3 separate regions of the Homo sapiens genome follow, and all the other regions are linked to region 1. The links come from fine-mapping of genetic effects on gene expression. A gene starts in region 1. Each other region holds a variant in brackets. All regions are shown on one strand. Distances are between the middles of the regions. Region 1 holds the start of TNFRSF9 (TNF receptor superfamily member 9). Region 2 overlaps LOC107984915 (a long non-coding RNA gene). Region 3 overlaps ERRFI1-DT (ERRFI1 divergent transcript).

The links.
Region 2: its variant is fine-mapped to the expression of TNFRSF9 in whole blood (TOPMed, PIP 0.99).
Region 3: its variant is fine-mapped to the expression of TNFRSF9 in whole blood (TOPMed, PIP above 0.99).

What each region holds. Positions count from the first base shown.
Region 1 is chr1:7,937,793-7,945,975 of GRCh38, reverse strand. TNFRSF9 (TNF receptor superfamily member 9) reads left to right here and starts at 5,137. Exons shown (of 8, transcript NM_001561.6): 1 at 5,137-5,192; 2 at 5,898-6,081; 3 at 7,148-7,255; 4 at 7,646-7,783. The coding sequence starts at 5,982. RefSeq lists a silencer at 3,294-3,433.
Region 2 is chr1:8,130,521-8,138,703 of GRCh38, reverse strand. LOC107984915 (a long non-coding RNA gene) reads left to right here. Exons shown (of 3, transcript XR_001737893.1): 2 at 562-853. Among named protein-coding and RNA genes, the nearest start is that of LINC01714, 74 kb to the left of the region's middle. The variant G/A (reference allele first, on the strand shown) is at 4,646.
Region 3 is chr1:8,099,871-8,108,053 of GRCh38, reverse strand. The region is part of intron 2 of ERRFI1-DT (ERRFI1 divergent transcript); the gene reads right to left. Among named protein-coding and RNA genes, the nearest start is that of ERRFI1-DT, 77 kb to the right of the region's middle. The variant C/T (reference allele first, on the strand shown) is at 4,044.

The sequences.
Region 1 (8,183 bases):
ATTCCATGGCAATATACAAGAACTTCCAAAACCACCAAGTGGGCCATAAATTGGATCAAGCAAGTGGATAACCAGCCTGAGCAACATGGCAAAACCCCTTTCTACAAAAAAATATAAAACTTAGCTGGGCAAGGTGGTGCGCACCTGTAGTCCCAGTTACTCGGGAGGCTGAGGCAGAAGAATCCCTTGAACCCTGGAGGCAGAAGCTGCAGTGAGCCAAGATTGCACCACTGCACTACAGCCTGGGTGACAGAGTGAGACCCTGTCTCAAAAAAAAAAAAAAAAAGGATACTTGGGACTGTAGGGAAATACCACTGTCTGTGATATTCTTGCATAATAATAGATTATACAAGAATCTGTTACACCCTTGGTATCTGAGATGGATTTGACAAATCTACTTGCCTTTTGTCTGCCTGGTACTTCTATGGCTCACACCCTCCCTGCCGTTCTTGGAGGCAACAGCACAGCTCACAACTCTCACAGCACGGTGTCACCCTCAAATGGAGTTTCAAGGACATGGATCCAGGGATGTGGGGGAGTCTTCACCCAGGCCTGGCAGTGTGGGTCCAGAGAGCAGATGGAGCCGAGTTAATGCATCCCTATGCCAGCACCGTGCGCCAGACACCCAGTCACAGACGCAGCTCTGTGTTCATTGTGTTTGTGTGTTTGTGTCTCTGCTCTGGACAGAACATACTTAACAGCGTATTTGGATTGATGAACAATTTCTAAATATTTGGACACATGGTAAGCAGGCCTCTGTTTGTACTCTTGTCCTGGGGACTGCACAGTGTTGGGGGTGGTCTGAAGTTGGAGACAACTATTGATAAGCCTTAGCATATGAGTGGATGCCACCTGGAGAAAGGGCAGAACAAGGAGGAAAGGTGAGCAAAGTCGATGGCTGCTGACACCCGCCTCTCCTTATGATTCGTACTTCCTTCTCCTTACTCTGCCTCCTTCCTCTTTGATTTCCTGCTCATTTTCTTTGTTCCAAGTTTAAAAACAATTTACTCCTTCCCAGGCCTCAGAACACCTACTGACATCACAAGCACCAGGTATGTCTAATAGTGACTACTAGTTTGGGTGTTTGGAGTAGGGGTGGCGACACTGAATCTTGAAAGAATAGATCTTTCAGGCAGAAAACAAGTGTAAACAGTGAATATCCCACGGAAGAGATTCCCTCTAAGATGCGCCCTGGAAGGGCGGAAGAATATTTTATAGGAAGCTTATTTTGAGGGCTTTCTCTTTCTAAATGTCTCCTTTATCCTGTTTAGAATTGTTGGGCCTTCATGCTATTTAGCCTCAAAGTATTTAGCTGCTTGAGATATTCAAGATTAGACCTATAGTCAATCAAAATGAAATAAAATCTATTTCTTGGTTTATTTATTTATTTATTTTTTTTTTATTTTATTTATTTATTTATTTTTTTGAGATGGAGTCTCGCCCTGTCGCCCAGGCTGGAGTGCAGTGGCACGATCTGGGCTCACTGCAAGCTCCGTGTCCCGGGTTCACGCCATTCTCCTGCCTCAGCCTCCAGAGTAGCTGGGACTACAGGCACCTGCCACAACGCCTTGCTAATTTTTTTTTGTATTTTTAGTAGAGATGGGGTTTCACCATGTTAGCCAGGATGGTCTCGATCTCCTGACCTTGTGATCCTCCCACCTCAGCCTCCCAAAGTGCTGGGATTATAGGCATGAGCCACTGCACCCGGCCTATTTCTTGGTTTAGAATGAGATGCTTAGGATGTGATGAAACAGATTATTAATACTGCTTAGGATGGATGAAACATATTATTAATATTATTAATACTGCTAAAGTGTTGCTGTCTTGTCGGGGTCATCTCTGATTTAGTTTGAGATGGTTTTATGGAATAGAAAAAGCTTTTGTTGCATTTGAAAGATTACAGGGCTACAATGGATAAAGCAATATGATACATGTTATAAAGCAAATGAAAATTATACCAAAAGAGTATTACACCTTTGGCTAGCTTAGATAGTATGTATATCTGGTTAACTATATAATTTGACTTAGCTTACTACGATGATTTTATACCACACAAAAATGCATGCAGTAACATGAATTCTTTTTTTTTTTTTTTTTGAGACAGTCTAGTTTTGTTGCTCAGGCTGGAGTGCACAGGTGCAAACATGGCTGACTGCAACCTCGACCTCCCAGGCTCAAGCAATCCTCCCATCCCAGCCTCCCAAGTAGTTAGAACCACAGGCACATGCCACCACACCCAGCTAATTTTTGTATTTTTTGTAGAGACAGGGTCTGGGCATCTTGTCCAGGTCATCTTGAACTCTTGGGCTCAAGCGATCCTCCTGCCTCAGCCTCCCTAAGTGCTGAGATTACAGGTGTGAGCCACTGTTCCCAGCCATGAATTTTTTAAACGCCTGAGTAAAGTTGAGCATAGCCTTCAGTAGCAGAATTCTGAAGTGGTTGACTTTGTTTAACTGTGGGCTGGCAAAACTAATGTTGAGACTCTTTTAGCTCAGTAAAGACTCTTATGTTACTGGCATAAAAGCCTGAAATAGTGAGCTAATTACTGTGCTGGGAAACTAAATATGTCACTTTCAGAGGAAGTAATGTCTCTGCCTACAGAATGTCCAAAACGTAGACTAGTGAGTAGCATTTAGTTAAATGAAATATGGCCCAGTTAAATGTCACACTGCAATGTTAAACAGAGTACCACATGTAAACAAGGAGATTACTTGGTTAGATGGTGACTTTCAAAGTGTTAGGAGGGGATCAGCAGTCCGATTTTTATGGTGTGACACTCTCACATTCAGCCAATTTCTGCCAAAGTGGGGCAAGGAGGGATCCCACAGATGTCACAGGTAAGATAACTCTCAGATGACCGTCAGTATTTGGGAACACATTTTGCAGGCAGCTCATGCGTTTTTCTCCTTTTCTGTCATGACTTGCCCTGTGGTGGCTCTACTGATGGTCAGTGTGGGAGGCAGGGAAGGAACATTTCAAACCAGTAAGTCTGATCATAGCAATTCCTACTTTCTTGAGAACTATGTGCCAAGCATTGAGCTAAGTATTTCATGCTCATCGTCTCATTTAATCCTCACTCACGAGGAAGATGTATGGTGTCACTGCACCTGTAAGATGTGCTTGCAAAAACAGAGTTAGGGAGGTTGAGAAATTTGCTCAAGATTACACAACTGAGGCAGGAGAATGGGGAACATGAGGCGTGAGAGAGCAAAGGGAATAAAAATCACTGGGAACCGGTAACCCCCCTCACCCCCGAGAGTGGCCAGGGAGAGAGAGGCTGCCTGAGGGAAGGAAGCTCGGCAGGACCCGCTGCAGACCCAGGGCCAAGGGAAGTCCCGCGGGAGGAAACGCGGGCGCGGTGGGGCTGGCTCCAGGCACGCGGGCCAAGGGCGGGAGGGTCGGACACGAAGCCACAAGGCTCCTTTCCTTCCTCCTCCTTCCCGTCTGCCTTCTTCTGCTTCTGCGGCCTGATCTCCGAGTCCCTCTGCCTGCAGGCGGCGGCAGAACGTCCGCATCTGTCCGCATCTCAGCGCTGTCCCCCAACCGAGTCGCGCCGCGTTTTCCTCTTCTGTCGGGAGAGCTCGTGCTGGGAACCGCGGGGCAGGAGGACGGCCCAAGCTACTCTCGATGTCCTTCCCCAGCCCACGCCTGCCCCAGCCACAGTTCCCCTGGTTTTCCTGAGGTTCTCCAGCTGCTCAATGATGGGCAGGTTCATCTACAGCCTGGAGCAGCCGCCTCCTCCTCCTCCTCCTCCTCCTCCTCCTCCTCCAGAAACACCCCTTTTTCCTTCTCCTCATTCTTCCTTCTCATTCTTTCTCCTCCTCACTCTTCCTTCTCCTCATTCTTCCGTCTCATTCTTTCTCCTCCTCATTCTTCCTTCTCCTCTTCCTCTTCCCCTTCTCTTTCTGTTCTTTTCTTCTTCCTCCTCCTCCTCCTTTTCTCTTTATTTTTCTCCTCCTCCTCCTCTTCTCCCTCTTCTTTCTCCTTATACTCCTCCTCTCCTCTTACTGTACTTTTTTTTCCTTCTGCTTTCTCTGCCCTCCTCTTCCTCTTCTTCTTCTTCTTCTTCTTTTTTTTTTTTTTTTTGTGGCTGGAGTGCAGTGGCGCAATCTCGGCTCACTGCAACCTCTACTTCCCAGGTTCAAGCGATTCTCCTGCCTCAGCCTCAGTAGCTGGGATTAAAGGGGTCCACCGCCACCATTCCCTGCTAATTTTTGTAATTTTAGTAGAGACAGGTTTTTGCCATGTTGGACAGTCTAGTGTCAAACTCCTGACCTCAGATGATCCATCCACCTCGGCCTCCCAAGTGTTGGGATTACAGGCATGAGTCACCGCGCCTGGTCTCTTTCTCCTTTTTTTTTTTTTAAAGAAAAATTGAAATCATGGTTTTCTAAAAATCCCTCCTAGCTCTCAGCTTCACCGAACCACGTCCTGGTCATTGACTTGCCGTGTGACTGCTGTGCTTCCCCTGTTTCCATTTCCCTCCATTTCTCCCTCCTTCCTCCCTCTGTCACCCATGCCCGGAGGAGCACGATAAGGGACCAGGCCGACCTGGGTTCCAACCCTGCCTGCTCCCTGTCCTGTTGACGCTCTAATTCCACTTGCAGCCCCACTTTCCTCATTTGCATAGTGTTCTCCCAGTAACAACAGCAGTCATACCAAGTTCTAGGGTTCTTTCGAGGATAGTGTGTATTCACCGCAGTGCATCTCTGATGCCTGGCACATCGGCTGTGCTCAAGTAATGGCAGCTATTGCATTACAGTGACTATGGAGTTAGGGGACCGCATATGGCAAAATGCTGATCACTGTTTTGAATTTGGTTTCATTCCTCTAATCTCAAATCCAGTGTTTTAAGGACATGCTAAATGCTTTGTCCTGGAGAGCTATCTTAAGGGACAAAATCGTTTTCCCAGCGTCATCTGTGACACATCCTGACAGTAGAGAGCTGCTTCCAAGAAGCAATTTGAAGTGCCATTATCAGGCAGGGACGGGGGCTCTAGGGGATTTCGGGGTCAGCAGATATGAAATGAATGATTTCATAGGGCTGTCACAGAGCTGTGGTGGGAATTTCCCATGAGACCCCGCCCCTGGCTGAGTCACCGCACTCCTGTGTTTGACCTGAAGTCCTCTCGAGCTGCAGAAGCCTGAAGACCAAGGAGTGGAAAGTTCTCCGGCAGCCCTGAGATCTCAAGGTCTGTCCATCTGGGGGAGTGGGTGGGGGCACTGAGAAGGGGTGAGATTGGAACTTTTGCTCCCTTTGCCCATTTCTAGACTTTTTCTCCTAATATGTAATAACTTCTCTTCAATAGCCCTTTAAATAAACATCAATAACTTAGCCTGAAGAGTTTTTCACTCCTTAGTTTTGTTACCATACAAACTTCACATCTCAAAACATGTCTCTGTTTAAGAAAATGTGTTAGTGAGTTGAACAGGGAGGTCTTTCCACATGTTAGTAGTTAGGTGTTCAGCTAAAGGGGGAAGAGTGATTATGTGATAGCTTCTTCTTGAACTGAATTGTCTGATGCCCCTGACAGATTCTCTTTGTAAGGAGTTTATTTCAGGGGCAATAAGTAATTGGCATTATTGCTGGTTGGTACTGCAAAGTACCTATGAAAGTCCCCAAAAGTTCTTGCTATTGTTATTTCTGCATTTTGGCAGAACATGATGGAAAATGCACCCTCAAACTTTGGCAAACCGGCACAAAGCTGTGTGTTTAATCACGCCTGCCTTGTCCTAGTGGTTTCTATGAATCTGCTACTTTTCCGTAATATTGCATCATTAATTGTTCCTGAAAAACCCTGAGTTATCCTCTTATAGAATTGTATAAGTAATGATTGCAATATAGATAATTTTGAAAGGAGAAACCACCTTTCCTTGGAAATGTTTATCTTTTGCAGAGTGACATTTGTGAGACCAGCTAATTTGATTAAAATTCTCTTGGAATCAGCTTTGCTAGTATCATACCTGTGCCAGATTTCATCATGGGAAACAGCTGTTACAACATAGTAGCCACTCTGTTGCTGGTCCTCAACTTTGAGAGGACAAGATCATTGCAGGATCCTTGTAGTAACTGCCCAGCTGGTGAGTACCCAGTTATCATGTGCATTTGATCTGCTCTGTTGGAAGTATGGTTCAGTTAGTCTAGTAGTCAGGGCTAACGAGCTCCCTTTTAAGGAAAGGAAAATGAAAATTCATTCATTTACAAATGTTTATTGGATGCTACAACCTAGCTGTGTGAACACAGCAAAGTCATTCAACCTCTTGTGCCTTGACTTTCTCATCTGGGGATAATAAGAGAACCTGTTTTATAGGATGGCTGGGAGGATCAAATGAAGGGCTTAGAACAGTGCATGGCACAAGGCAAGACTTCAATAAATGTTAGTTTTGTGTGTAGGGCTTTGTGCTCCGACTGGGGGCATAGCAGCGAGTAAGCGCGTAGTAAAGGGCTTAACAGAGTGGGGACGGTCAGTCGCATTTAAATTTTAGTGTAGGACATTGATGTCCTCCTGGATCCAGTCATATTCATCTCCTACATCAATCAAGATAATCATTTTGTTTTATTCAATAGATAAAGTATTTTCTTTCTGTTGATTTATTTGTTACAATATCTGGTTTTTTTGTTTTTTTTGTGTGTGTATGTTTTTTTTTTTTTTTTTGAGACACAGTCTCACTCTGTCGCCCAGGCTGGAGTGCAGTGGCACGATCTCAGCTCACTGCAACCTTGGCCTCCCAGGTTCAAGCAATTCTCCTGCCTCAGCCTCCCGAGTAGCTGGGATTACAGGTGTGCACCACTGCGCCTGGCTAATTTTTGTATTTTTAGTAGAGACAGGATTTCACCATGTTGGCCAAGCTGGTCTTGAACTGCTGACCTCAGGTGATCTGCCCGCTTCGGCCTCCCAAAGTGCTGTGATTACAGGCGTGAGCCACTGCACCTGGCCTGTATTTTGTTATTTCTAATTCTGTGATTACACAAAGAATAATCTTGCAAATGTATTGTTTTAGGAAGTCAATCAAACTAATGTCCACCACTGTGGCATCTAGAAAACTCATCATTCTTTTATAATCTTATTTTATTGTAAACTTCGGAATGCCTTGGGTGACGATTGCCCATTGTCAAACGTGTACCACTATTGTCTGCCTTTCTTAGGTACATTCTGTGATAATAACAGGAATCAGATTTGCAGTCCCTGTCCTCCAAATAGTTTCTCCAGCGCAGGTGGACAAAGGACCTGTGACATATGCAGGCAGTGTAAAGGTATGAGTTCAAAGATATTTTCTTCTTCTAGAAGATAGTTGGGAAGATAAGCTTTTCTTTCCCATTTACTAACTGCTCTCTTTTGAAAATCTCAAGTGTCAAAGACTGATTCTTCTGCCAACCAGCAGGTCTAGGACAATAATATCCAGTGACAGCAATTATTTGTGGACTGAGCTTTCTAAATATTAGAGGAAACATTCATTTGACAAGAGAGAAGTTTTTACTTACCTAAATGTAAAAATGTCTTTATGGAGATTTAAAAGTAAACTTTAAAATTACTGGGAACACTATAAGTAGAGTGAGCATGATTTTTACTGCAGAGCATAAATTCGCTTCCTGGATTTGGAGGTCAAGTGTAATAAAATGTTGGGGGCTGGGGGGACTTTGTAGGTGTTTTCAGGACCAGGAAGGAGTGTTCCTCCACCAGCAATGCAGAGTGTGACTGCACTCCAGGGTTTCACTGCCTGGGGGCAGGATGCAGCATGTGTGAACAGGATTGTAAACAAGGTCAAGAACTGACAAAAAAAGGTACGTTTGCGTTTCTTTGATCTAGTGTAGTTTTGTGACATAGACAAACTTAGCTTTGATCTTGATCCTTTGAAAATAAACAAACAGATTTGTAGAACCTTAAAGTAACAAGGGAGTATATGATATATCATATTTTAATTAATAAAATATTTCAATTAATAAAATATTTCCGTTATTTCTTCATAAATGGAAATAATTTGAAATCAGAACATTTGTTAATTGCCAGAACCATTAATCTTCACATGTTCCAGACATATACAATACTTTATGTACAATTAAAATAAAAACTAGCCATCTTAGGGTGTTGTTTCAAGAATTATTGAACAATTTGTGCAGATTGCATTATGGTAATGACTTATATTAAGTTCATCACAGGAAAAGTTACAAAATGATGAAAATG
Region 2 (8,183 bases), 190 kb before region 1:
CCTCTACAAAAAATACAAAAAATTAGCCAGGCATGGTGACATGTGCCTGCGGTCCCAGCTACTCGGGAGGCCGAGGTGGGAGGATCACCTGAACCCAGAAGGTGGAGATTGCAAGTGAGCAGAAATGCGCCACTGCACTCCAGCCTGGGTGACAGAGCAAGACCCTGTCTCCAAAACAAAACAAACAAAAAGCCTGGGAAAACTCATGTTACAGCCAACTTGTAGAAATTTTATTATTCTCTTCTCATCGATGGCCTTTCTTTTCGTCATCAGTGTTCCTTAAGTTTCCTTTCATCAGAGATTCATTATGGGTGTACATTTATAAATGAAAACGAATTTCAGGTGTCCATGAGCTTCCGTAGGGGTCAGCTATGGACCGGCAACCTGAGGACAGCTGTAAGGACTCCGGGCTGAGCACCTCTCTGAGACTCCCAAGGTGTTTAATTATTTTTAACAAACAGAAATGGAAGCAGACACTTTTCTGCCTCTAATGATATGACCACTCTGGCCCAGCATGACAAACTTCATTTCCTCCCAAATCCCTTTTTGCTGATCTCTCAGATCCCCAGTTGGAGGAACCATCCTTTACAGCTGACTGACTCACCAGTCCCTAATGCTGGTCAGATGTCCTGAACAAGGAAAGCCGTGATTTCTGCGACCAGAGAGAATCGGTCAGTCACGGTGTCCCTCAGCCAAAATGAACTCAGCCTATTGTCTCCGGAGAGCTGGTAAATCGGCAGCTGAAGAAACATACAGTTCTGTGTTTCAAAATGCAAAAGACCACATTTCCCTGACCTCGGGTGCTCGCTGACACATTCCCAACCAATGACTATAAATCTGCTCCTGGATTGTGGTAAGTTGAGAAATTAAACACAAATATCCCATCTGATAACCTTCCTCTGGCCTTTCACAGTGTTGTTTATAGAACTGAATTTTAGAAAATGAATTCCTTTATCCTCAAGGTTTTAGGGCTTTTTTCTTCTAAGCCCAGAAACTGTAAACGTTTTCATGATACAAGAAAGCTGGCGCTTCTCCTTCTACTTAAATTACAGACACTCGTCTGAGTTGCCTGCTGCTGTGGATTTTTGTTGGGTTTCAGTTGCTTTCTAGCCATTCTTCCATCCTTAGAGCATCTGAATTTCCTTTTATGAATTTCCCTCATCCCCTTTGAGGGAATCCGATGAAATCTCAAATCCAAGCACCTGCCTCCCAGCAAGAATGCGGAGCTGCTAGCTTTCTGGAACTACATGATTTCCACCCCTTTTTTTCTTTTTTTTTTTTGAGACGGAGTCTCACTCTGTCACCCAGGCTGGAGTGCAGTGGCCTGATCTCCGCTCCCTGCAAGCTCCGCCTCCCGGGTTCACGCCGTTCTCCTGCCTCAACCTCCCGAGTAGCTGGTACTACAGGTGCCCGCCACCATGCCCAGCTAATTTTTTTTTTACTTTTTTAGTAGAGACGGAGTTTCACCATGTTAGCCAGGATGGTCTCAATCTCCTGACCTCGTGATCTGCCCACCTCGGCCTCCCAAAGTGTTGGGATTACAGGTGTGGGTCACCGCGCCTGGCCAATTTCCGCCCCTTTTCAAACTCAGTGCCTCAACCTCACATCTGTTGGATGAGTCCAAGAGACCCTTCTAGTACATTCCCTTTTGCTTCCATTACACTCTAACTGGTGAGCCTAGTGCATAGGAGAGGCGCCTGTCCCTGTCAGCCTTGATCTGGCTTCCTGAGAGCTCTGTCTTATCTCTAACACATATTCTTCTGTCAAAACACAAGTGGAACGGCAGATTGGGGTTTTGAAATCACACTTGGTGGAGCTCTGGCCTGTAGATGTGTTCTCACCAATCCATGAGGTCTTTTCAAAAATATCATCATTGTTTTATTATTTATTTATTTATTTTTGAGACAGGGTCTCACTCTGTCACCCAGTCTAGAGTGTAGTGGGGGTGATCCTAGGTCACTGCAGCCTCGACCTCCTGGACCTCAAGTGATCCTCCCACTTCAGCCTCCTGAGTAGCTGGGACTACAGGTGCACACCACCATACCTGGCTAATTTTTGTATTTTTTGTAGAGACAGGGTTTCACATGTTGCCCAGGCTGGTCTCGAACTCCTGGGCTCAAGCAGTGCTCTCGCCTCAGCCTCCCAAAGTGCTGGGATTACAGGCGTGAGCCACCTGGCCTTCAGTGAAAATCTTAAAGGATTAATGTAAAAATCACATGGTGGGATCATGATCCTCCCATCAAGCTCTGTATCAAACATTCATCCTAAAGCTCATCAGTTCAGAGCTGGAGAGTAAACAACTTCAGAGAAAGAGGCTTTCCAAAACAGTGGGAATTTCGGCAGAGATGGAGCTTGGGGAAACTGAGGCACTCAGTCTGACTTCTCTTCCCTGATGAGGATGTGGGCTTGCTGAAGCTGAGTTTGGTTCAAGAAAGAGGAGAGTTCAATGTTGATAAAAATTATCTTGAACAAAAGTCACAGATTGCTAGAGCAAGTTCTTCTTGAACTGTGACAATAAGACCAGGCTAAACAAGCTAAAGGACATAGCAAAACGCATGGACAATGTTAATCGGCCGCATTAGGGAATCCATGGAGAGGCCACCGTGGGTCTCTAGAAGCTACACTGAAATGTGTTTCATCTGCTTCCACCCTGGTGAGAGGGGTCCCACTTCCATAAGTTTCCATGTCCTTTGTTAAACAGAGAACCTAGAGTTGTCGTACAGGGTGGGGAGAGATGTGGTTCCTTCCCACTGGACATTCATCCAACTGAAACACTACAGTTGGTATCTAAAGTGAGACAGGCACTACCAGGCGTGGAAGATTCATCAAGCCGAAAGAAGAAACACTGAGCTAGCTATTTCCAAGGTGGATACAGAGCCAATTGTAACAATGGAATTTATGCAGTTTCCCTACCTGGGACAATTCACACACAGTGGTTAAGGAAGCTCAGTAAAGTCCAGGTAGCCCACTGACTGTTCCCTGGCTTCTCCCAGCCACCTATGACCTGGACAAGACTTGGAACCCAAAGGGAGTTAAAAAACTAAGAACCTCAGGCTGGGCGCAGTGGTCCCAGCACTTTGGGAAGCCAAGGAGGGCTGATCACTTGAGCTGAAGAGCTGGAGAGCAGCCTGGCCAACATGGTGAAACCCCGTCTCTAAAAAAAACTACAAAAATGAACTGGGCATGTTGGCGCAATCCTGTAATCTCAGCTACTCAGGTAGCTTAGGCGGGAGGACCACCTGACCCCAGGAGGCAGAGGTTGTAGTGAGCTAAGACCATGCCACTGCACTTCAGCCTGGGCAATAGAGCGAGACCCTGTCTCAAAACAAACAAAACAAAAAGCTAACAAAACAAAACAGCAAAAACAAAACCTTGAACCTTATCAAGCCTCGAGAGCCAACCACCATTATACCAGGAGCATAGAACTGGCCAGATTCGGATATGGGGAATTTCTGCAGGGCAAACGGCCCAGGTACATCAAGAAACAATGTCATGGGAAAAGATGGAGCAGGAAGTGTGGCAGATTAAAAGAGACGGAACAGTCAGCGGCAACCTTGGTGTTTTGTTTGTTTCCGAATCTGTACAAACCAACAGTAAAAATCCATGATTGAGAAAGCAGGGAAATGGGAAAGCAGACAGGGCCTGAAAGGGTGGTGGTGGCTTGGACCACGTCATTGTGGTGAAGCTGGAGCTAGATTCCTCCACATCCCTTTCTCTGTGGAGTTCTGGGTGAAGAGGTGGCCCAAAGAGGCACTGTCGTGGGATTCGGGAGGCTGCGTGAAGCATCAGCCGTGACTCTCCAAAGTTCTTAGACTTGATGCATGACAGACACACACACAGGTATCAACGAAGTCCAGCTTGTCCCCACTCTCCTGTCCCCATCCACTTCTCCCCGACCACCAACTCTGCTGACCAGCAACGGCCCTGAGCCAGCCTCCAGATGCTTGCCTGGGGTCCACTCTGGCTGGAGCAGTTCTTATTAAAGGGTTTTTGTTCATTGCATTAGCTTCATCGCAGTATTGCATTACACTGGGGGCAAGACATTCTCTGTGGTAGGTACACACTGAAGCATTTATGGGTGAAATTATGTTATTTCTAGGGTTTGCTTAAAATACTTCAAAACGAAAGAGGCTGGAGCGTGGAGACTAAACAAAACAACATTGAAAAATGGTAACGATTGTTAGAGTTGGAAGATGGGCTCATTGTTCTATTTGCTCTGTTTCTGGTATGTTCGAAAATGTTCATGATTTCAAATTACGGAGTCGGGGGAGCTAAGGAAATGGAACAGAACCTGAAGATCCCCCACCCCCTCCTCCACTCCAGACTAGCACTAGGCAAAGTTGCAGGCAAAATTGCATAACTGGAAAATTCTTCAATTCTTCTTGAGGATGTGGGTTAAGGGAGGGAGGAAAAACTTAGAGCGGCAAGAGGCTGATGAATAGACACACACCACAGAAGAAAAAAGAAAACCAATTAAATCTTACTATTACTTTTAACTGTGAGTAATACGCTTGGACATGTGTGAGCTGGTCTTGTTGTTCTTACAAACAAGGCTAAAAAAAACCTATGACCTTGGAATTCTCAGATTCGTGCAGGCTGTTGAGTTATTTTAAGTGGTGTTCAGAGGACAGGGTTTCTGACCTAA[G/A]AATGTACTTTTCCAAAGGTACCTTCTAACTTGGAATTTTAAATATTAATTGAGATATAAAACTTCTTTTTAGGAAAAATGTAAAAATCTCCATGAGCTCAGCCATTGTTTTGGTTAGGAGAGAAGATGACCGTGTAGGATGGGGGCCAACCCAAACAGAAGGGTGGAGAATGGCAACAGGCCCACAGTTCTGTTCACAAATGTTCTTCTCCAGGGCTGAGCTTCTTGGAAAGGGGTTTATTTTATTTCACTCTATCCCTGCTCCACAGTTGGGTCATTTTAGGATCTCAGCTGGTGGCCACAGCTTTTAAGGCTTCTGAGTCATACTCCTTTTTTTTTTTAAGAGGTTATTTAAAAGTTTTTCAAAGTAGGGAGATATTATATGGAAAATATTAAGCAGAAGAAAATATTTTGTATTGGAAAAAATAAATGATCGGTGTTCATAAAAGTGTGTAGTCAGTAAATCAGAAAAACTGTGAACCCGTTAGAGAAACAAACTTTGAGGGAAAATACTGCATATGGTTTTAAAAGATGCAAAAGCTGATCCTGGCACCCAGTCTCAGGAGGAGAACAGAGGGAGGAAGTCAGAAATGCAGATGATCTGTGGGGAGGTGCGGGTGCCCAGGGCAAGAGAGAGGGAGGAGGATGGAGACTCCAGGGCGTGGAAGAGGAGATATGCAAAATGCCGAACCCTAGAGGGGTGCCAGCTCAGTCACCCTCAAGGCAGACTGGCCCAGGTTCCCACACCTCCTTGTCCCACAGTCAAGTCCAATAAAATGGCAGGGGTGGCGGGGGGAGGGGGGAGTAGAGACACAGAGCCCTCTGTGATGTTCACTTGCTGATGGTTTTCCCTGAGAAGGGACTCAGAATACGCCATCCCCAGGCCGGGTGCAGTGGCTCTCAGCACTTTGAGAAGCTGAGGTGGGCAGATCACTTGAGTCCAGGAGTTCGAGACCAGCCTGGGCAACACAGTGAGATCCCATCTCTATATAATAAATATTAAAAATAAAAAAAATTTTTAATTTAAAAAATTAAAATGAATTTAAAAGAAAATTTTAAAAGATAGGATGCTCATTGCAACCTCCACCTTTTAAGCTCAAGCTATCCTCCCACCTTAGCCTTCCAAGGAGCTGGGACTGCAGGCGCGTGCCACCACACTTTGGCGTTAAGGATTATTCTGAGCTGGAGGCACTTGAGAATCGACAAGCAAGTACAGTTCTCTGCCCTCCCCTTCACTGCCTGAAAGCCAGGCATCAATTTCCCCCGTAAAGGTGTCCCTGCACCCCCATCAGAGGACGAGAAGAGCACTCATCCCCAGAGGCGGTTGGCTCCAAGATGAGTCTACATGAAGAGACCCTTACTGAAATAACGCCTGACTCCCCATTCGTCCCCATACGCTTCTTAGTCACTTTCCTACGATCCGTTGTCTCTCCAAGCTCAAACCTGCCTTTCTTTGTTAAAATGGTATAAATTCCTGAGCCTAACCACTTCTTTGAGTTTCACTTTTTTTTTTTAAACTCTTATGCATGTAAATGTTTATAAAAATTGTGTGCTTTGTCTCCTGTTAACCTGTTTTTTTTTTTTTTTTTTTTTGCTCTTTTATTTTATTTCATTTTTTTGAGACAGGGTCTCGCTCTGTCATCCAGACAGAGTGCAGTGGTTCTATCTTGGCTCATTGCAACCTCCGCCTCTTAAGCTCAAGCTATCCTCCCACCTCAGTCTTCCGAGTAGCTGGCACTGCAGGCGTGTGCCACCATACCTGGCTAATTTTTGTATATTTTGTAGAGATGGGGTCTTACCATGTTGCCCAGGCTGGTCTCGAACTCCTAGGCTCAAATGATCCTCCTACCTCTGCCTCCCAAAATGCTAGGATTACAGGTGTGAGCCACTGTGCCAGGCCTGTCTTTTGGTAGTTTAATTCGCAGACCCCTAATCATATAACATAGGAGGGTAGAGGCAACGTTTTTCCTCCCTGACACCTGCATTCAAGGGTTAATTAAATGCACAAAATGGGGACCTCTAGACTAATTGCCAGACCCCATAAAAATAATTCACCTGAGGCCTTTCAGATCCTTGAGGCCACCCATGACCTATAGATAAATTACTAACCCAGGCCCTCCCCATGCCCAACAGAAAGCCCAGTGTCAGGTAGACCTGTTTATATTTTGACACATTTTAGCAACTGCAATACAGGCTTTAGCATTCTTGTATACCTTAGTGTTTTTTATAGACAGCTTTATTGAGACATCGAATAAAACAAACATAAACACTTAACGGTGAGTAGATACTTTTGACATATGAATTCACCCCTAAAACTATTTGCCACCATCAAGTCGGTGAACATACCCATCACCCTCGTAGTTTCCTCGTGGCCCTTTGATACCATAGTATTTTCATGTGTCAAAACAGCAGTGTGGGCCGGGCAGGTGGCTCACGCCTGTAATCCCAACACTTTGGGAGGCCAAGGTGGGCAGATTACCTGAGGTTAGGAATTCAAGACCAGCCTGGCCAACACGGTGAAACCCCATCTCTACTAAAAATACAAAAATTAGCTGGGTGTGGTGGCTCACGCCTGTAATCCCAGCTACTCAGGAGGCTGAGGCATGAGAATCGCTTGAATCCGGGAGGCAGAGTTTGCAGTGAGCTGAGATTGCACCACTGCACTCCAGCCTGGGTGATAGAGTGAGACTCTGTCTCAAAAAACAACCACCACAATGAAAAAACAGCAGTGTGTTTGTGAGTATAGCACCATTCTTTTAGACTACAGTGGGCAATTGGCTTAGATTTCTGGCTCTCTTCTCAATCCCTTTCCCCACTCCTGTCCCAAGCCCCCCAGCCGTCATCATCACTTTCCTCCTGCTATTCCCTACCAAATCCTCTTGCCCCCACCCCAAAACCAAAGCCCCTCACTCAAAGGGGGACAGTGGAACCACTCTGTGTGTTTCGAGGGTCACAAAGCTGCTAGTCAGGGCCCCGGGGGTGCCCTGGAGATAAAGGAAGCAGCTAAGCCAAGATAAGCTAAGCTCCAAGAAATGCTCTGGGATGTGTTATAGATGTTTAGTTTTGATCTTTCTATTCTCCATTTCATGAATTTGAAAAGTTTTCAATAAAATGTCCCTTTTTTTTTTTTTTTTTTTTTTGAGACAGGATCTTGCTCTGTCACCCAGGCTGGAGTGCAGTGGTGTGATCTTGGCTCACTGCAACCTCTGCCTCCTGGGTTCAAGCAATTCTCCTGTCTCAGCCTCCCGAGTAGCTGGGATTACAGGTGCGTGCCACCATGTCTGGCTAATTTTTGTATTTTTAGTAGAGACGGGGTTTCACCATGTTGGCCAGGCTGGTCTTGAACTCCTGACCTCAAGTGATCTGCCCACCTCAGCCTCCCAAAGTGCTGGGATTACAGGCGTGAGCCACCGCACCTGGCCAAAATAGCCCCCCCTTTTTTTTGAGAGAGAGAGAGGGGGTCTTGGTTTGTCACCCAGGTGGTTGGAGTGCAGAGACGCAATCTCAGTTCACTGAAGCCTCGACCTCCCAGCTTCAA
Region 3 (8,183 bases), 160 kb before region 1:
TACAGGGTCCTCTTATCATTTGGAGCTCTGCTGGGCCTGTATTTATGGGTCCTATTTCAGGCTTGACTTGGTCCTTCTCTCTTCTGGCCTTGATCAGTTTTGCTGAAGTGAGTGTTTCTTTTTTTGGTCTTTTCGAAGAACCCATTTTTCCTTATGAATCCTTTCTATTTCTTTGTTATCGATTTCACTGATTTCTGTTTTTATTTTGAGTATTCCCTTGTTTTTACTTTCTTCACATTCATTCCGAAGTCCTTAATCCAATTTGTTACACTGAATGCTTGGCTCACTAATTAACAGCAGCAGTTCCTTTCTAATATAAAGAAACATTTACGGCTAAAATTTTTACTCTAATTATTGCTTTAGCAAGATTCTTCCAGTTCTAATGTGTAATTATTTTTCTCATTCACTCTCAAATACTTCCTTGTTTCTATAATGATATTTTATTTTATATTACATTATTTAGAAACTTTTAAATTTCTAAAAGTATGGGGAATTTTAGGTACAATTTTGTTTTGTTTTGTTTTGTTTTTTGAGTCGGAGTATCTCTGTTGCCCAGGCTGGAGTGCAGTGGTGCGATCTCGGCTCACTGCAACCTCTGCCTTCCAGGTTCAAGCGATTCTCCTGCCTCAGCCTCCCGAGTAGCTGGGATTACAGGCACACACCACCATGCCCAGCTTTAAATGTCCCACTTCTTAATACTTTTGCATTGGAGATCAGGTTTCAACATAGGAATTTTGGGGGATGGGAGAGGCACAGACATTCAGACCACAGCATAGCATGTGGTTATTGCTTTTTATTGCCAAATAACACTCCTGTGTGGATGTACGTGACATTTTACTTATCCATTTATCTGCTGATGGACATTTGGGTCGTTTCTGCTTTTTTACTATTAGGAATAATGCCGCTATGAGCATTTGTGTACAAGTTTTTCACGGACATATATTTTCGTATCTCTTGGGTACATAATTAGTTGTGGAATTGCTGGGTCATATGGTGACACCATGTTTAGCTGTTTGAGGAACTTGCCAAACTGCTTTGCAAAGCAGCTGCGCCATCTTAAAATCCCACCAGCAGTGTACAAGGCTTTCAGTTTCTCCACTTCCTCATTGGCACTCGTCATTATGTCTTTTTTATTATTGCTTAGTCCTTTTTGCCCAACAGCTTGTACTGCGCTTGACACAGGGCATGTACTTAAATATTTAATTACAAACAATGTAATGATCTTTCTAATTACAGCATGTTTTAATTCTCATGTGTATGTTATATACATTATGGTTACATATGTTATACACAATATGGCTAAAGTATTATTATATCTTGCACCAGTCATTAAATTCCTTATTTTAAGCTATACTGCTGTTTGGGTAGAAGGCGTGAGGGAAGAGGCAGGGAGCACGTCTCACCAGTGATAGTCACAGCCAATAACCTAAGCCACAAAGGGCCACATCCGTGATGAAGGACATATAGACCAATTCTTGTCATTACACAGGCCAAGATCTAATTTCTGGATAAAAGATTAGAAAAGATTTTCATTTTACTACAGACTGATGTAGCTGATGTTAGCAATGCAGTTCCATTTTTCTCAAAGGCATTTTATTACTGAGTCAATAAGATTATCTAAATTTTTTAAGTCTACATATTTTCTATGGGTCTCAAATCTATTCTGATTTTAAATAGGGACTTTTTTTAAAAATCTTTTTTCTTTTTCCTGACTTGACTTCATGAAAAATAGGTTGTCACCACAGGACTAGATAACCATGTATTAGTCAACAATGTTTTTCCTAATAAGGAGTCTCACACTGGAATCCAAAAAAAAATTTTTTTTTTTTTGAGACGGAGTCTCATTCTGTCACCCAGACTAGAGTACAGTGATGCAATCTCTGCTCACTGCAACCTCCGACTCCCGGGTTCAAGCAATTCTTCTGCCTCAGCCTCCCAAGTGGCTTGGATTACAGGTGCCCGCCACCACACCTGGCTAATTTTTGTATTTTTATTAGAGACAGGGTTTCACCATGTTGGCCAGGCTGGTCTCAAACTCCTGACCTCAGGTGATCTGCCCACCTCGGCCTCCCGAAGTGCTGAGATTACAGGTGTGAGCCACCGTGCCCAGCCAAGGAAACCAAAGTTAAGAACAGAAACTCTGCACGGCCTGAGAGTCTTGGTTCAGGAAGAAAGAAAAGGTTTACATTTTAATAGCAAGGCCATTTTGGTGTTTGTCCTGAGAGCCAGAAAGACAAGTGATTTGCTAAAATTGTTCGTTTATTCATTGGTTCACCCAATATACATTCAATAGCATGAAAATATACTTTGTTTCCAACACACCTGCAGATGGTCCCCAGCATGGTCTGACTTGGTTACTATGACCTACGGATCTCCTTCCTGGGTTATAATCAACACCTCAGACAGCATCCTCCTCCTAAATATAGTTTAAATTATATTACCTTAAATATAGGTTCCCTATGCTCATCCACATGATGCTCATTAATATTTATCCAGTCACTCATGCTTCCCTTGCAACTGGTCCCCATGACCTGGAAATTTGAAGCAACCACAGCCATATTGCTTTTTGCAGACTGTTTATTTGGTGATCAAAACAAGTGTGTAGCACATTATGGGTCCTCAATAAACATTGAAATAATAACAGATTCCATCCTTAATAATCACTGGCTTCAAAAAATTAATGAAGCAGTTGCCTTCATACCTCCATATGGTCAATAGAAACTGTGATTACTTGCTGCCACGACCTCTATCTGCAAATGACACTATGGAGTTAGATGATTGGGAACACGTGTCTCAGCTTTGTGTCAAGGTTTGACTTCAGGCACGCCAAGGTGTGTCTTAAAAGGTAGATCAAGTGGCCTGGCACGGTGGCTCATGCCTGTAGTCCTAGCACTTTGGGAGGCCTAGGCGGGAGGAATGGTTGAGCCCAGGAGCTCGAGACCAGCCTGGGCAACGTGGCAAAACCCCATCTCTACCAAAATACAAACATCAGCCAGGCATGGTGGCTCGTGCCTGTGATCCCAGCTACGCAGAGTGGGAGAATCTCTTGAGCCAAGGAGGTTAAGGCTGCAGTGAGCCGCGATGGCACCACTCACTGTACTCCAGCCTGAGTGGCAGAGCAAGACCTTATGTCCAAAAAAAAAAAGGTAAACCACTGGATGCAGGAAGTAGGGCTCTCTGTTGACCTGAGGGCTCTAGGCAATGTCTTAATCTCAGTCTTGTCAGCTTTGACTTTTGTCCCTAGTGAAAGGGCTTGTGTTTCCTCTTTCTGTCTAAGGGGAATTCTCCTTACCTAACATGCTGTTTCTCCCCAGCCCGTGCACTTCCTTATTCTGCAGCCCCTTCTAAACTCTGGGCGAATGGCAATGATTGGAGCAGAAGATGGGGATAATGACGTCACCAGATGGGAGTCATTTGCTGAAGCTGGGACTCATGTGGGGTTAGGGGGCGGCAATATGGCAAGGAGCAAGGCTGCCATGCATTACAAAAAATCATTATAATGGCCCCTCAAAAAAATTTGAATAGATGAGCCTTGTAGACATTATGCTAAGTGAGATAAGGCAGTCACAAAAAGACAGTCACTGTATGATTCCACCTACATGAGGTACCGAGAACAGCCAAATGAATAGAGACAGAAAGTAGAATGGTGGTTGCCAGCGGCTGCAGAAGAGGGAGTGGGGGGTTGTTTAATGGGCACACAGTTTCAATCACGCAAGATGAGAAAAGTTCTGGAGGTTTAAACTCAACCTCATTAAGGTATAATTTACATACCATAAAATGTATAAACTTTAAGTATGCAACGTGAGTTTCGACAGATGAATATGTACACCCATGTAACCATCATCACGATTAAGCTATAGAATATTTCTGGCTGAGCACAGTGGCTCACGCCTGTAATCCCAGCACTTTGGGAGGCTGAGGCAGATGGATCACCTGAGGTCAGGAGCTTGAGACCAGCCTGGACAACATGGTGAAACCCCATCTCTACTAAAAATTAAAAAATTAGCGGAGTGTGGTGGTGCATGCCTGTAGTCCCAGCTACT[C/T]GGGAGGCTGAGGCAGGAGAATCACTTGAATCCGGGAGGCAGAGGTTGCAGTGAGCTAGATTGTGCCACTGCACTCCAGCCTGGGCAACAGAGTGAGACTCCGTCTCAAAAAAAAAAAAAAACCCACCCACACACAAAAAAAACAGATAAAGGACATTTCTATCACCCTAAAAGGTTCCCTTACGTCCCTGCCTGGTAAATCTGGACCAACCCCTCCTGGCCCAAGGCAACCAGAGACCTGTCTTCTAGATTTGCTTTTTTTTTTTTTTTTTTTTTTTTGAGACAGAGTCTCACTCTGTTATCCAGGCTGGAGTGTGGAGACACGATCTGAGCTCACTGCAACCTCCACCTCCCGTGTTCAAGTGATTCTCCTGCCTCAGCCTCCCAAGTAGCTGGGATTACAGGCACCCATCACCACGCCCGATTAATTTGTGTATTTTTAGTAGAGACAGGGTTTTACCATGTTGGCCAGGCTGGTCTCGAACTCCTGACCTCAGGTGATCCATCTGCCTTGGCCTCCCAAAGTGGTGGGATTACAGACGTGAGCCACCACACCCGGCCCTAGATTCACTTTGTCTTTCCTAGAGTTTCATATAAATAGAATCATACAGTAGATACCCTGGCTTCTTTCACTGGGCATGTTTTTAAAATCCATCCATATGAATCATTAATTTGTTCCTTTGTATTTCAAAATAATCTCATTTTTATAGACATGTCACAATGTATTCATTCACTGTGGATGGGCATTTGGGTTGTTTCTGGTTCTTTGACAATTATTATGAATAAAGACTCAATGTCTTTATTGGTAAATGTCTTTATGTGAGCCTGTGCTATCACTTCTCTTGAATAAATGCCTAGGAGTGGAATAAAGTCACATATATAACTTCATAAGAAATGGTGGAGCTGTTATCCAGAGCGGTCTTACCATGTTGAATGACGACCGTAAACATACGATAGTTCCAGGTGTTCCACATTCTCACCAGCACTTGGTATTGTCATGTTCTTAAATTTTAGCCTTCCAATGGGGTTTTAGTTTGTATTTCCCTGATATCTAATGATATGGGGCATCTTTTCATGAGCTTGCTGTACTGAAAATACTGTCTCCCAGTCTGTGACCTGCCTTGTCATTTTCTTAACAGTGTCTTGCCAAAATCAAAAGTTTTTAACTTTGAAGTCTATTTTCAATTCTTTTATAGTTCATACTTTTTATATCTAGCTGAGAAATCTTTGCCTATTCCAAGGTTACAAAGATTTTTCTCCTATATATTCATCTCTAAGTTTTATGTTAAGGTGTATGATCCATTTCAAGCTAGTTTTATGTAAGGTATGAGATAAACATCGGGGCTCCTGTTTTCCACGGAGATGTCCAGTTTTTCCTGCATAATTTGTTGAAAAGACTGTCTTTCCCCTCAACTGAATTATCCTGGCTACTTTGTCAAATATCAATTTACTAGGTATATGTGGGTCTGTTTTCACTTTTCTGTTCTATTGAGCTGTCTATTTGTGTAGTGATACCACACCGTCTTAATTACCGAAGCTGAATATTAAATCCAGAAATCAGGTAATATGAATTTTCCAATGTTGTTCTTTATTTTCAAAATAAGTTTATTGGGTTCTTTGTGGGCTCTTTTTGTTTCCACATCAATTTTAAGAGCAGTTTACCATTTGCTACAAAAGCTTTGCTAAAATTTTACTTGGCATTGCATGGTCTCTACAAATTAATTTGGAGATAATTGACATTTAAAAAAATATTGAGTCTTCCCATCCACAGCATGGTCTAGCTACCTATTTATTTCTATATTTTAAATTTTCTCTTAGCAGTATTTTAGAGTTTTCTATAGATTGGTTTTATTCTTATTTTCTTAAGATTATCCCTAAGTACTTCATGATTTTTGAAGCTATTGTAAGTGGTATTTTTATCTGAATTTTCAATTGTTTGAAAATTGAAAAATTCAATTCTCAATTGAATTTCAATTTGTTACTATTACATATAGAAATTTAACTATTTTTTGCAATTGTATATAGAAATTTCAATTAATATTGACCTTGTATCCTTCAACCTTAAAAAACTCACTCTTTATAGCTAATAACATGTTTTGTTTTGTTTTGATTTTGGTAGATTCCTTTGGATTTTTTATGTTCAAGATTATGTTGCTTGTGAGTAAAAATAGTTTTACATCTTTCCAATATGTGTGGGTTTTATTTATTTTTCTTGCTTTATTGCACGAATGAGGACCTCCAGTACATGTTGAATAGCAAAGGTGAGCGTGGACATCCTTGTCCTTTCCCAATCTCAGGGAAAAGCAGTGTTTCACTATTAAGGATATTGTTAGCTGTAGGGTTTTTTTGAAGCTGTCCTTCATTAGGTTGAGGCAGTTCCCTTTTATGACCAATTTGCTGAGAGTTTATGAGTGGGTATGAAATTTTTTCAGAAGTGTTTTCTTTTCGGGGGAACGGGGTACATCTACTGAGATACTGTGTAGAGAAGAGTTAACATGGCAGGGCTGGGACTGCTCTCCTTTGAAAGTCCTGTTTGCAGCCAGGTGCGGTGGCTCACACCTGTAATTCCAGCTCTTTGGGAGGCCAAGGAGGGCTGATCATTTGAAGTCAGGAGTTTGAGACCAGCCTGGCCAATGTGGTGGAACCCCATCTCTACTAAAAATACAAAAATTATCTGGGTGTGGTGGCAGGCGTCTGTAATCCCAGCTACTAGGGAGGCTGAGGCAGAAGAATCACTTGAAGCCGGAAGGCAGAGGTTGCAGTGAGCTGAGATCCCACCACTGAACTCCAGCCTGGGCAACAGAGTGAGACTCCATCACACACACAAAAATAATAATAATAATAATAATAATAATAATAATAAAATCAAAAATAAAGAAAGTCCTGTTTGCAAATGTTAGCCTTTGGCTGGCATCTGCGACTTAGATTTTAGGAGGGTTCCCGTTATTCCCAGGCCTCATGAGAGTCTCACGTTGCCTAACCTGTTTGGTACAAACCATGTGGTTTACGCTGAACACCTATTTTCCTTTTTTGAGGGGAGTCTGGAATTTTGGTATGTGCCATGCAAAGGTCGCCTATGTGACCAGCCCCTTGTGAAAACCCTGGGCTCCGAGTCTCTGCAAGTTTCTTAGAAGACAACATTTCACGCATGTCACAACTCATTGCTGAGGGAGTTCAGCACGAGGAAATGAATTTTGGAAACTCACACCAGACTTCACCCCAAGTGCCTTTTGACTTCGCTGGTTTTACTTTGTGTTCTTCCTCTGTGATAAATCTTAGCCATGAGCATGACTAGATCCTGAAGCCCGTGAGTCCTCTCTAGGAGGCGAATCTGGAGGAGGCCTTAGGGACCACCAACACAGATATCAGAAATTTTTTCTCCTTTATTCTGTGAGTTACATCAATTTAGTTTGAAAATTAAACCAATCTTGGGCAGGGTGCTGTGATTCATGCCTGTAATCCCAGCACTTTGGGAGGCCGAGGTGGGCAGATCACTTGAGGCCAGGAGTTCGAGACCAGCCTGACCAACATGGCGAAACCCCATCTCTACTAAAAATACAAAACTTAGCTGCGTGTCGTGGCGGGCACCTGTAATCCAGGCTACTCCAGAGGCTGAGACAGGAGAATCAATTGAACCCAGAAGGTGGAGGTTGCAGTGAGCCCAGATTGCGCCACTGCACTCCAGCCTGGGTGACAGAGTGAGACTCTGCCTCAAAAAAAAACAACAAATGGAAAATTAAATCTATCTTGAATTCCTGGAATACACCCTATATGGTATTAACCTCCATATATATATATATATATCTTTGGATTTGATTTGTTAATATGTTGTTATGGATTTTGCACCTATGATACTGGTCTATAATTTTCTTTATTATAATAATTTTGTCATGGTAATTCTGGCTTCATAAAATGAGTTAGAAAGTATTACTTCTCCCTCTATTTTCTGAAAATTTGCATATGATTGATGTTATTTCTTTCTTAAATATTTGATAAAATTCTCCATTGAAGCCATCTGGGCCTGGTATCTTTTTAGTCAGAAGTTTTTAAATTACAAATTTAATTTCTTTAATAGGCCGGGCGTGGTGGCTCATGCCTGTAATCCCAGCACTTTGGGAAGCCGAGGCGGGGGATCACTTG